Homo sapiens: one gene and its partners. The protein of the gene in region 2 purifies or fractionates together with the protein of the main gene of each other region. This does not show direct contact. Each region holds a gene or a part of one and is shown on either strand. Other genes may lie near its edges. The genes, in order: SLC25A14, SPOCK2, EME1 and TPRKB.

Evidence for each region.
Region 1: the proteins of SPOCK2 (region 2) and SLC25A14 purify together in Homo sapiens (affinity purification with mass spectrometry; one large-scale study listed by BioGRID and IntAct). This does not show direct contact.
Region 3: the proteins of SPOCK2 (region 2) and EME1 purify together in Homo sapiens (affinity purification with mass spectrometry; one large-scale study listed by BioGRID and IntAct). This does not show direct contact.
Region 4: the proteins of SPOCK2 (region 2) and TPRKB purify together in Homo sapiens (affinity purification with mass spectrometry; one large-scale study listed by BioGRID and IntAct). This does not show direct contact.

The regions. Positions count from the first base shown.
Region 1 is NC_000023.11:130,363,919-130,367,418, forward strand, and holds part of SLC25A14 (brain mitochondrial carrier protein 1 isoform 1 precursor), read left to right. Parts: intron 1-709; coding exon 710-834; exon of another isoform or gene 835-1,622; coding exon 1,623-1,758; intron 1,759-3,500. UniProt on the Homo sapiens protein: Transports inorganic anions (sulfate, sulfite, thiosulfate and phosphate) and, to a lesser extent, a variety of dicarboxylates (e.g. malonate, malate and citramalate) and, even more so, aspartate and glutamate and tricarboxylates.
Region 2 is NC_000010.11:72,061,543-72,064,551, forward strand, and holds part of SPOCK2 (testican-2 isoform 2 precursor), read right to left. Parts: intron 2,699-3,009; coding exon 2,636-2,698; intron 1,621-2,635; coding exon 1,483-1,620; intron 1,364-1,482; coding exon 1,218-1,363; 3' UTR 1-1,217. UniProt on the Homo sapiens protein: May participate in diverse steps of neurogenesis. Binds calcium.
Region 3 is NC_000017.11:50,376,229-50,379,105, forward strand, and holds part of EME1 (structure-specific endonuclease subunit EME1), read left to right. Parts: intron 1-2,366; coding exon 2,367-2,453; intron 2,454-2,545; coding exon 2,546-2,667; intron 2,668-2,839; coding exon of another isoform or gene 2,840-2,877. UniProt on the Homo sapiens protein: Non-catalytic subunit of the structure-specific, heterodimeric DNA endonuclease MUS81-EME1 which is involved in the maintenance of genome stability. In the complex, EME1 is required for DNA cleavage, participating in DNA recognition and bending.
Region 4 is NC_000002.12:73,729,373-73,731,859, forward strand, and holds the end of TPRKB (EKC/KEOPS complex subunit TPRKB), read right to left. Parts: intron 1,365-2,487; coding exon 1,188-1,364; intron 658-1,187; coding exon 571-657; 3' UTR 501-570; downstream 1-500. UniProt on the Homo sapiens protein: Component of the EKC/KEOPS complex that is required for the formation of a threonylcarbamoyl group on adenosine at position 37 (t(6)A37) in tRNAs that read codons beginning with adenine.

The DNA of each region.
Region 1 (3,500 bases), on a different chromosome or scaffold from region 2:
GAGATAGAGTCTTACTGTATTGCCCAGGTTTGTCTAGAACTCCTCCTCAAGTGATCCTCCTGCCTCACCCTCTCAAAGTGCTGGGATTACAGGCATGAGCCCCTGTGCCTGGCCTTCTTTTACTTAAAAGAAAAATCGTTATAGCCATCCTAGTAGGTATGAAGTGGTATGTCCTTGTGGTTTTGATTTGCATTTCTCTAGTGACTAATGATGTTTAGCATCTTTTCGTGTGCTTATTGGCCATTTGTGTATCTTTTTTGAAGGAAATATCTTCAGGTCTTTTGGCCATTTTAAAATTGGATTGTTTGCCTTTTTTGTTGTAAGAGTTATTTATATATTCTTGACACTAGTCCCTTATCAGATATATGAGCGGCAAATGTTTTTTTCCTTTGTGTATGTTGACTCTTCACTTTCTGAGTGGTGTCTTTTGAGTCATAAAAGTTTTTAATTGTGATGAAGTCCAGTTGATCTTTTTTTTTTCTTTTGTCTTTTGTGCTTTGGGTGTCATATCAATTATTTTATTTTTAGTATAGCAAGTGAATTGGAAATTTGTATATGTTCCATTATTAGTCATTGATTTGAAAGAGTGACGTCTGTACTTCAGACTTGTATTTTTCTGTTACTTTTCAACTCCTGACCTATTTTGTTCACTCTAAGACATCACTCCCTTTGTATTTCCTTGGTGCCTAATGTCACTTGTGTTTCGTAGGGTGTGGTTCCAACTGCTCAGCGTGCTGCCATCGTTGTAGGAGTAGAGCTACCAGTCTATGATATTACTAAGAAGCATTTAATATTGTCAGGAATGATGGGCGATACAATTTTAACTCACTTCGTGTAAGTAGGATGGGATGTGCTCATTTTATTTCCAGCATTTTGAGCACAAAAAGCCTCTTTTACTGAAATCCTCAGGTGGAATTTGATAACTGGTACGTATGGCCTAAATTCCCTTGTCTCTCCTATTATCAGAACTTCAAGCCTTATGAACACTTTATACTTCACAGAAATGCCAGGTGCTATGGGGGCTTGGGTACTTGGGAACATTGTCTAATACAGCAGCCTATCAGAGGTCTATTTGATTTACATTTATCCATACATAGCTTCTATATCTAATAAGCACATCTATTATTTGCTTTGGTTAATTTTGTTTGAGAAAGCAAACTTTTCTCAGTGGGAATCAGAAAAAAAGGGGTAAATAAGGTCTGTGAAACTAAAGCACAGTTTTTTGGCTAAAGACTGTTACTGATCTCATTTTACATTTTCTTTGTCTTGCAACCTTTATGATAATTTTGTTACTCAAATGCATTTGGCATGTGATGCTGTGGTTTGAAAAATTTATGTAACTAATACATGGTGCATGATACTTTCTACTTAGGAATCTTGTTAGGTTTAGAAACTCTCCTTTAAAAAAAAGGCTGAGTTTCAGATTGAAAATTGAAGGGACAGCCTTTGAATGATGTCTCTTTAGAAAAATTTCCTGTCTCTTTAGATTGTAACGAAAGGCCAAGTGCCAGGTTTTATCTGATGGGTCTGAGTTATATTGTACAGTTTACGTTTGGCCTAATTTCTGTTTAAGTGGGCAGGGAGTGAAAGTGGGGTCGATCTACTTAAACTTTTCCTCTTAGTTCCAGCTTTACATGTGGTTTGGCTGGGGCTCTGGCCTCCAACCCGGTTGATGTGGTTCGAACTCGCATGATGAACCAGAGGGCAATCGTGGGACATGTGGATCTCTATAAGGGCACTGTTGATGGTATTTTAAAGGTAAGTACATTGTGGATTTGGGTTACAATTTGGCTTTCTTTGATGTCTTAGACCTTCCTTCAGTTCTTATTATTAGTTGCTACATACCATTTTGAAGATGAAAGAATCATATTTTTTTAGTAGCTTCTCAGTTATTCCCAGGTAGAAAAGCTGTCTCCTTAGCAATCTGCTAATTTGCAGTGGTACTTAATATAATGATTCCCATTTGAATGCTTTAAAATACAGGATGCTTTTATTAATAGTATCATGTAGAATTATTGATAGAAAAGACAATATATCCCCCATTTGCCTACTTCATACAACACAGAGACCCTGCAATAGAAAACTCAATACTTAAGGAAAAAAGCCTGTATTTTATTTCAGTTCACGGTTATGCTGTTGTTCACTTTGGCTTTGAAAGTTCCTGCTGTTGTGTTTGTGGGAACTGAATATTCTAAAAGTATTACATCATTACTGGTGATATTATTGCTACTGAAAACAAATTGAGGCTAAAATATGATGTTGCCATATGGTTTCTCTCCTGTTATCAGTTTTGTTTAACAACTATTACATATTAGACACCATTTTAGTAGTTAGAGAGAAATTACAGTTATTACAAAAGTACTATAGGTATACAAACGGATCATCAGTACAGCCTGATAAGTGATAAACTCAAGAGTTCTCAATTTGGAAGCATTGAGGTAGGCTCCCTGTAGATGGTGGCATCTTGAATAACAATAACTCATATCCACTGAGTGCTTTTTTGTGTGTCAGCAACTGTCCTTATGAGACTTATGTGTATTCGTTCATTGAATCCTCACCATTACTCCACGAGGTAGACACTGAAGCACTGAAAGATTAAGTAAGCTGCCTAAGGTTTCACAGCTACTAAGTGGGAGAACTGGAATTTAAACTCAGATCACTTGACCTCAAACTGACATTTACCTCTCCACTATGGTGCTTTCCTCATATTGGTGGCCAAGGGTTAGATTATAAAGGATACTGAATGCTATATTGAGGTGCTTGGACTTTTTTTTAACTTGTCAGGGAGCTGTTGAAAGTTTTTAATCAGATTAGCTTTGCATTTTAAATAGATTACTTTGGCTTTATGGAGACTGGATCTACCACAGTGGTTCCTCATCTTGGGTACACATTGGAATCACTTGGGAGAACTTTCGCAGCTCCCTCCTCTACCTTAGACCAATTAACTCAGAACCTGGGGAGTAAGGTCCAGGTGTCAATATTTTAAACTATATCAGGTGACTGCAATGTTCACCTAAGGTTGAAGACTACTAAGGGGATAAGCCTGGAGCCATGGTTCTTCAAAGTTTAACATGCATCAGAATTACCTGGAGGGCTTGTTAAACTGCAGTTCACTTGGAGCCATCTCCAGATTCTGATTTAGTAAGTATGGAGTGGGACCTGGAAATTTGCATTTTTAATAAATTCCCAGGCAATACTGATGTTGCTAGTCTGGAGACCACACTTGGAGAACCACTGACCTACAGATAGGGAAGCTGATTAGAAGGCTCTTGTAATCTGAGAAAGAGGGGATGAAGGCCTGAACTTGAGCATGATAATGGAGATATAGAAGGTGGGACAGAGTCAAGAAAGAATTAGTTGATAGAGTCAGCAGGATTTGATTGACTGGATGTGGAGGGGTGTGGGAGAAAAGAGGTGTCAAAGATAAGTTCTGGGTTTTTGGAGTTGGTGACCAGGTGGTGACATTCATTGACAGAGGCATCACAAGAGGAGCACGTCTT
Region 2 (3,009 bases):
AGGGACAGCTCTCTCTGTTGGTCTGGGCAGGACAGGAGTGTTAAGGGTCAGGGAGGAGGTGGGCACACACCCCCTTAGCCTAGACCCAGGCTCCTTGCCTGCTGCTCCTGGCCCTCAGGCGCCCTCAAGTGGATGAGGGGACCCCAGCAAGGGGGATGGAGGCAGGAGTTGCACCAAGGGGGAGCCAGGCAGAGGTCAACTGTGTAACCACCACCCAGTGTCCCCAAGAGAGCAGCCCAGATCATGGCTCCACCACGAGACCCAGAGAAAAGGGACAGGCTATTCCAGGGTCTAGGATTCAGAGCTGCCCCATCTCAACACCTAAAAGCTCCCCCAGGCTCTGCAGCCACAGCCTCCTCCTGCTGAGCCGACCCCCTCTCCTCACCCTGTTCTACCTGCACCACCTGGGCCACCTGGGACAGACCTCAGACAGCTTGGCGAGGCACCCTGTCCCTGGCCTCTCAGCTGCTGCCCTCCTCCTCTGCCGCCACCACCTTCATTCTCCGCCTTGGGTTAGGAGAGCTTCTCTAGTGTTTGGGGATCCGGCAAAGGGACAGGGCTTGCTGTGGCTGGGCGTCCTGGCCCGTCTCATCTGAGGCTGGTGGGGATGTCACACCACATCGGCCCAGTTTTGGGAGGACCTCAGCTGGTAGACAGCTCCCTGCCCCTCCCTCCCCTTTGCAATGGGGACAGGCTCGCAGGCCAGAGCTTGACCTCAGAAGCAAGAGGGAGAAGGGCAGACAGGGGTCGGTTGAGCCAGGGTAGAAACCAAGGGGAGCCAGGGTAGAAACCAAGGGGTCAGGGCTGGGCTGGAGGACACGGCTGGGGGATCTCATTTCATGGATTTTGACCTGTCAATTTGTATTTGTGTGTGAATGTATTTTAAAACCAACAACAAAAGGAAAGAAAACAGCTACAAGGAGGCCGAAGGGGCCTTTGGGTGACTCACTCTGCCAGGAGCAGTGTGGATCAAGGACACATTTGTCAGCGCATGCCACACACACACACACATACACACATGCATGCACACATGCACTCACACTGTCACCCGTCCCAGCCATCTGTGCCACACACATGCCATGCACACTCACACTCCCAGTCCCCCCAGGTGGAGCAGGGTCCTTCTGACTGCATTTCTGGATCCGTTCTCGAAGTTGCCTGCTGCTGCTCAGAGCTCTGCTGTTGAGTCCCCCCCGGCAGCCGGCTCCTGAGGGCGTCTACCAGATGTAGCCCCCGTCGTCAGCCTCGCCTGCCTCGCCCTCCTCCTCCTCGGCCTCCTCGCCTGCTTCCTCCGTCTCCTTCTCCTCCTCATCCTCCCAGCCGACACCGCTTCCAAAGTCCCCCGAGAAGCCCACGATGTCATCTGTGAGGGGATCAAGCCAACAGGGGGTGAGGGAGCTTCTGGCACGCACCCCCCAGCATCCCACGACAAGGGCCCCCAGGCCTGGGCCCCCAGCAGGCCCTGAGCTGCCCAGCCCGTACCGCAGTCGGGGCTCCCATGCGTGCGCGTGCCAGTCAGCTCCAGGCCCAGCTGGTCCACACACCAGCAGTCACCGCTGCTCTGGTCACACTGCATCTTCCGGTAGTAGCCATCCTCGTCGCAGCTCGGGATGAAGATGCCTGAATGAGACAGTGCCAGGCAGGGTCAGAGCAGGGGCCCAGGCTGTGGGCCCCTCAGAGAGGTGACCTCAGGTCCTCATGCATGAGCAGAAGTCTATACACCCCCAGAGCCCAGCCAGACCGGGTGCTGACCCCCCAACAGGCCCAGATGCTGAGAGCTGGACACCAGCCAGCAATTCTTTCGGCTCTACTCGCTGGAGATGAGGAAACCCGCTTCCTTGAACCACTGCTCAGGCCCCTGTGCTAGCTCCCAGCCGCCCCATCAGTTTCCCTGACTCCATGGCCCAAGTCTTCTAGGACAGCCAGTCTGACTTCACCAGGTTTGACACTCTCCATCCTCCCACAGTTCCGCCGGCCTGGCTGTCCCCTGCTAGGAAGGCCCAGCCTTCTCCTCCCAGCCACTCTGAGTCCGACCTGCCTCCGGGGCCCACTTGCTTTCCTGCAGGCTCCCCAGCTGAAGCTCCCAGGCGCCTGTGTACAGGTCACACTGCTAGTTCTGTCTTTTTAGTGTGTCCATTTGTGTGTTGTGTGTTTCCGGACTGGCCCGAGCTAAAGGGTTATGAGGCCAGGGAGTGCATCCTTCTTGCCATCCGCTCAGAGTTGGGCTGGGTCTATTGCTGTTGTATCTCTGGGGCCGGCCCCCAGGTGTTTATGGAGCATGTGAGTGAGTGTCACTCAGGGAGTGGCCTCACTAAAACATTAGTCACACCCTTGCTGAAGGAAACTGAACTCAGTGGAGGGTTCCAGGATCCTTCTGTATCCCAAACTCTAGCTCCAGCATGGATGGGCATAAAATTAGTGCCTAAAACACACTTTTCCCGGGGCAGATTGGGAGTCCCTGCCCCACCACAAGGATAGACACAGGAAGGGGGCAACCCTCTTCTGTCTTCCTAGGCCAGGGCCTCCTCTGGGCTCCATGTCTGCCATGAGGCCCAAGGCTGGAGGCCCTGGGTCTCAGACAAACCCAGGAAGCCGTCCCCACCTCCTCCTCTGAGAGCCTGGTCTGGCCCCTCACCTGGCTTCTTCTTGGCGGCCTCCTGGATCTGGATGCGCTCCAGCTCTGCCAGGCAGGGGGGCTCTGTGGGGAGAGAAGCAGCCTCTGATGGGACTGTCCCCTGGTGCTGGGGGGATGCACTGAGCCCTTCAAGGCTTAGAGACCCAGGCAGGGGCTCTGCAAGATGAAAACACCCCGTTTCTGACACGGGGTCACCCCACAGCAGGGGTGGGAAGTACAAGGGTTCTATGGCACGAAAACGCTCACTCTCTATTTAGGGGAGCTCATTCCACAGCTGTGGATGACCTGAGGTCCCCAAGAAGTCCTAGGGACCCATGAGAGGAGTAACAGGATTCAGAAGAGGAGGTGGGGTGAACACACAGACACCCAAGTAT
Region 3 (2,877 bases), on a different chromosome or scaffold from region 2:
TCCCCTTACAATTACAGGATAAATATGCTTTTATTTTAAAGGATACTTATCAGGGCCCCAGCAGGAAGACAGATGGCACATTCAACTCAGGGTAATTAAAAGAAGATTGAATAAAGGGACTGTTTGCCAAGGCATGGGCAGGGTATGAGGAAACTACCAGTGACAGCATGGTACCTCACAGTAATAACAGCACAACTTAGGTTTTTCGACCTCAGTATTGTTGACATTTTAGATTGGAGAATTCTTTGTTTTGGGTGCTGTCCTATGATGTGCACAATGTTTAGCAGCATTCCTGGCCACTATCTACTAATGTACCCCTCTCAGTCATGACAATAAAAAATGTCTGCAGACACTGCCAGATGTCATTTGTGGGGAAAAATCACCCCCGGTTGAGAACCATTGGCATAGCTGTTACCATCCCTATGCCTGAAGGGATGAGGGGAAGGAGTGGTTAACAGAATTCAGGAGAGAGAAATGGAGAGAGGACCACCTTGAGCGAAGCTATGAGCTGCCACAGAGGGGGACAGCAAACCCTAGGTGACCCCACTGGGAGGGAGCCAGGGGAAAAATACCCTGACTTCACTTTTCTCCTTCCCACTAGTCCTCTCCTCGGGTCCCTGCTGGTGACACCCAGCTGGGAGCCAGAAGACATGTGGGCCCTGTGTTTTTTGTAGAGATTGCAGAGTGTAGCTTGTATTTTTGGTAGAGACGGGGTTTTGCCATGTTGCCCAGGCTGGTCTTCAACTCCTGAGCTCAAGCAATCCACCTGCCTCAGCCTCTCAAAATGCTGCGATTACAGGTGTGAGGCACCTTGCCTAGCACTAAGATTCTTTTTTATCTCACCAGAAGCATCTTGTATAAAATAAGAAAAAAGATTTTTTTTTCCTCTCTTTGATTTCTTTTTTGGATCTGATAACTTTCTCAGTAACACAGGACAGTTCCCCACACTTTTTACTCTGGGGGTATTAGCAAGCCTTTATATTCATAGAGCAGCTTACCCTCTCAAGGCACTCCCACATTCTCTCTTGTGTTTCCATCAGTCATCCTATGGGGTAGGACTTCTCCCCACATCACAGGTGGGGAAACTGGGGCTCAGAAAAGTTAAAAGCCTTGTTGAGGATCACAACGGGAATGAGAACCCAGAGCTCCCCAAACCTACACTTTGCTGTAATATAGGTCTTGCTTTGCTTATAGGGACCCAATCAGAAAACTTTCTATCAAAGTCCTGTTCCCCAATTACTCCATAATACTGTACTGCTGGAGGATTGTTGGCCTTGAGGCATCCTTGACTTTGATTATGCCCTACCTGTGATAAACAGGAGGTACTCTCATAGACTGAAGTTTCCCTTGTGATTCTTGTCTTTGTCACAAAAAAACCTATCTGTTTGTAAGGACCACTCGGCTCACAGCATCTGCCTTCAAAGCCAGAGTCATTTACTTGTACTAACCTTTGGAAGAGTTTCCCTTCCCTCCATTCCCGTATTCAAAATGGCCCCAGCCCCTTTCAACTTGCTATGTTCCTTTTTTCTCTCTTTTTTTTTTTTTGAGACAGAGTTTCACCCTGCTGCCCAGGCTAGAATGCAATGGCATGGTCTCGGCTCACTGCAGCTTCTGCCTTCTGGGTTCAAGTGATTCTTCTGCCTCAGCCTCCCAAGTAGCTGGGATTACAGGCGTGTACCACCACGCCCAGCTAATATTTTTGTATTTTTAGTAGAGACGGGGTTTCACCATGTTGGCCAGGCTGGTCTCGAACTCCTGACCTCAGGTGATCCGCCCGCCTAGGCCTCCCAAAGTGCTGGGATTGGGATTACAGGTGTGAGCCACCGTGCCTGGCCTGCTATGTTCCTTTTTTTTTTTTTGATGGAGTCTAGCCCCGTTGCCAGGTTGGGGTGCAGTGTTATGATCTCGGCTCACTGCAACCTCCACCTCCCAGTTTCAAGCAATTCTCCTGCCTCAGTCTCCCGAGTAGCTGGGATTACAGGCACGTACCGCCACACCCAGCTAATTTTTGTATTTTTAATAGAGATGGGGTTTTACCGTGTTGGCCAGGATGGGCTTGATCTCCGACCTCGTGATCTGCCCACCTCGGCCTCCCAAAGTGCTGGGATTACAGGCGTGAGTCACCGCGCCCGGCTGCTATGTTCCTTTCTTATTCACTGTCTCTGAGATGCAGGGCACCAAGACTGAATCATTGAGGGCTGGGAGGGACAGCGACACTGTTTCTTGCCACAGTGACTTCATTCCAGAAAGGATAATGCATAAGGGGTGGGAGTTAGTTCATTCACCCAGAAGACCTGGGCCACTCTCACAGGTGCTCAATACCTGCTGACCTCCCTCCCTGTGCTGTGTTCTGGGTACTTTGGCAGGACAGAGAGGACTGGGTGGAGGAGCCAACAGTACTGGTGTTGCTCCGGGCAGAGGCATTTGTGTCCATGATCGACAATGGAAAGCAGGTGGGCAGAGCCAGAGGGTGGGAGGACACGGAACAGAGGGCTGACTCTTACTAGGAAGCAAGTATTAATGCAGTTTCTGCCCCTTCATGCAGGGAAGCCTGGACAGCACTATGAAAGGGAAGGAAACGCTTCAGGGCTTTGTAACTGACATCACAGCAAAGACAGCAGGGAAAGCTCTGTCACTGGTGATTGTGGATCAGGAGAAATGCTTCAGGTTTGGATTTGCCCTGGTGATTTCATGTTAAAAGGGGCAGCTCTTGGGCCAAGGGGGGTGAGTTTAGTTTATTCATTGCAGATGTAGGTCACTCTGCAAGGTAGTCCATCTCTAACAAGTCCAGGGGGATGCTCTGGTCCAGTCTTCTTCTGTATCTTCTGCCTGACTTCAGCCTGGAGCTGCTGTTCTTTGATTTCCTCCCCTGCACCA
Region 4 (2,487 bases), on a different chromosome or scaffold from region 2:
TGCAATTTTTATTCTAATTATATAAAAATAAAATATATTTGAATAGAAACAGAACTCTAGAAGGCAATAACAAGTAATAGTAACTGATTATCTTTTAAAATACAACGAGGTAGGACTACAAGTGGTTTTTTTGTTTTTTTTTTTTTTGGTTTTTTTTTTTGAGACGGAGTCTCGCTCAGCTGCCCAGGCTGGAGTGCTATGGCACGATCTCAGCTCACTGCAACCTGTGCCTCCCAGGTTCATGCGATTCTCCTGTCTCAGCCTCCCGAATAGCTGGGATTACAGGCACCTGCCATCATGCCCAGCTAATTTTTGTATTTTAGTAGAGATGGGGTTTCACCATGTTAGCCAGGCTGGTCTTGAACTCCTGACCTCAGGTGATCCACCTGCCTTGGCCTCCCAAATTGCTGGGATTTCAGGCGTGAGCCACCGTGCCTGGCCTTTTTTTTTTTTTTTTAATACCATTCTGTGATTTAAACTTTTCTATAATGCACAATTAGTTTTATAGTCAGGAAAGGAAAATCAATGTTTTCTTTAATGCTGAGAATTTTTGTTAATATTTCTGACATTTCATAAAACATCTTTTGTTGACATTCTACAAATGATAGCATCCAATAATGTCCCAATACTTTCTTCTTGTGAAGAGAGTTTATATATCTGTAAAAATGAAAGACAAATTATGACTTGCTGATATCGTCATTCACTACTAATTGTCATTATACAAACATGTGTAAGTGAAATTATTCCTCATTCAATTATTGGGTTCATGGTATAACAAACAACAAATGTGATTAAAATATTCAAAGTAGAGGGCAATTCATTACTTGTATCCCCTTTAAATTGCTGCTATGGGAGTAACTCTCAAGAACATAAAAACCAAATTTCTATCCATTTTAAAAGCATACTAAATTTATTTTACATTTTAAATATACTATGTAAGTTTGATATTTAAAGGTATTCTCTTTCTTAATGTGGAGAATGGTTATGTCAGCTGAGTTTGTAATTATATTTTACATAAACCATCACACCTCCCAGTTCTTTGTATCTGTAATTTTTAAGTAATTTTTAAAATTAGATTAACTTTCTCAAAAGTTCAAAAAACAAGGAGCTCTGGTGATCAATAGGCAAACGGCATCAGCATTATTGCTCATCTATCACACTCTTTCTAAAAATATGGACTGGCAAACCTTTTTGACTTCTGTAATATTCATTATTTCAGGAAGATTTTTCAGAGAAACCTGATGACCTTCTACTTGAGATATTAGGTATTCTTGATTTATTTGTTTTTCTCCCTCTTCAATGTAAACAATTAGAATTGAAGTGTCATTTGCTGAGATACCAAATTTTTTCAAAGCCTCTGAAATCTAAGAGAAAAAAAATGAAAAAAAAAACACAAGATCATTAACCATTGTTTCCTACGTCTGAAACATTTCCTGATCTGCCTTCTTCCTTGGTCAGGCTCTTATTTTTCATGTCCTAACAGTTCTCACTGCCTACTTTTTCACTTTAATGATTCCTTTCCAACATCCATTGGCACTTCCTCAAAAGCACTCCCTGCTTAAAGGTACGCCTTGTTCCTATGGAATCAAGCCCAGCCTCTTGGCGCTGCACAAAAACACCTCCTCCCTCTGGTGCCAAGTGGCCCTCCAGCCAGGCGCTTCTGCCTTCTGGCCAGTCCAGCCTGCCTGGGGATCCAGTCACATTTCATGCCCTTCTGCCTGTGCTCAAGCTTTGTCCTCTGCTCGCATGTCCCTTCTCCTCATGGCTTGGCTGCTGAACACATGCTTCAGGGTCCACAGTTCTGATGCCACTCCCCACCACACCCTCCTCCCTCCAAAATGAATGGCTTCATTGCTGTACCCCTAGATTTGAATTCATTTTCCCATTATATCATTTATCTTAGGGCATTTTAACTTGTCTTGTTTATCTGCCTCTCCTCAGGAACATATTTGCCTCTTCTGCCCCTAGAACTGTAAATGGAACGGGGAAAAAGTTCAACAGATGTTTACTGAATTCAAGAGTTTTCTGAATTATGTCTAATGATCTCAAGGAAACCATAATTAGTAAATTTTATTCCAGGTACTGGGAATCTCTATTACCATGCTGAGATAACTGCATTTTATAAACTTGTCAATCATCTGTATTTTAACCTATGCTACAGGTTTCCTGTAGATGACATTAGTACCTGGTTGTTATTAACAGCAGCAGTAATACTAAAACTTCATCAGCAAAATTGCAGTCATTTTTTTCATGTGCTACATGTGTGATGTCTTTAGCTTGATAACTTTCATTGAAAAAGCATTACTATAAGTATTTCAAACCACAAACTCTACCTATGTACTGGGTGTGTGAGTGAGGCTGTGTTAAGGACTGTTATAGGTACAAGCAAGTTCCTGGTATATGAAAAAGACATGGATCCCACCCTCAAGGAGTTTACGGGAAGAGAGAATGATATGCAGGCTAGCACACAAAATATCCACGCCTAAT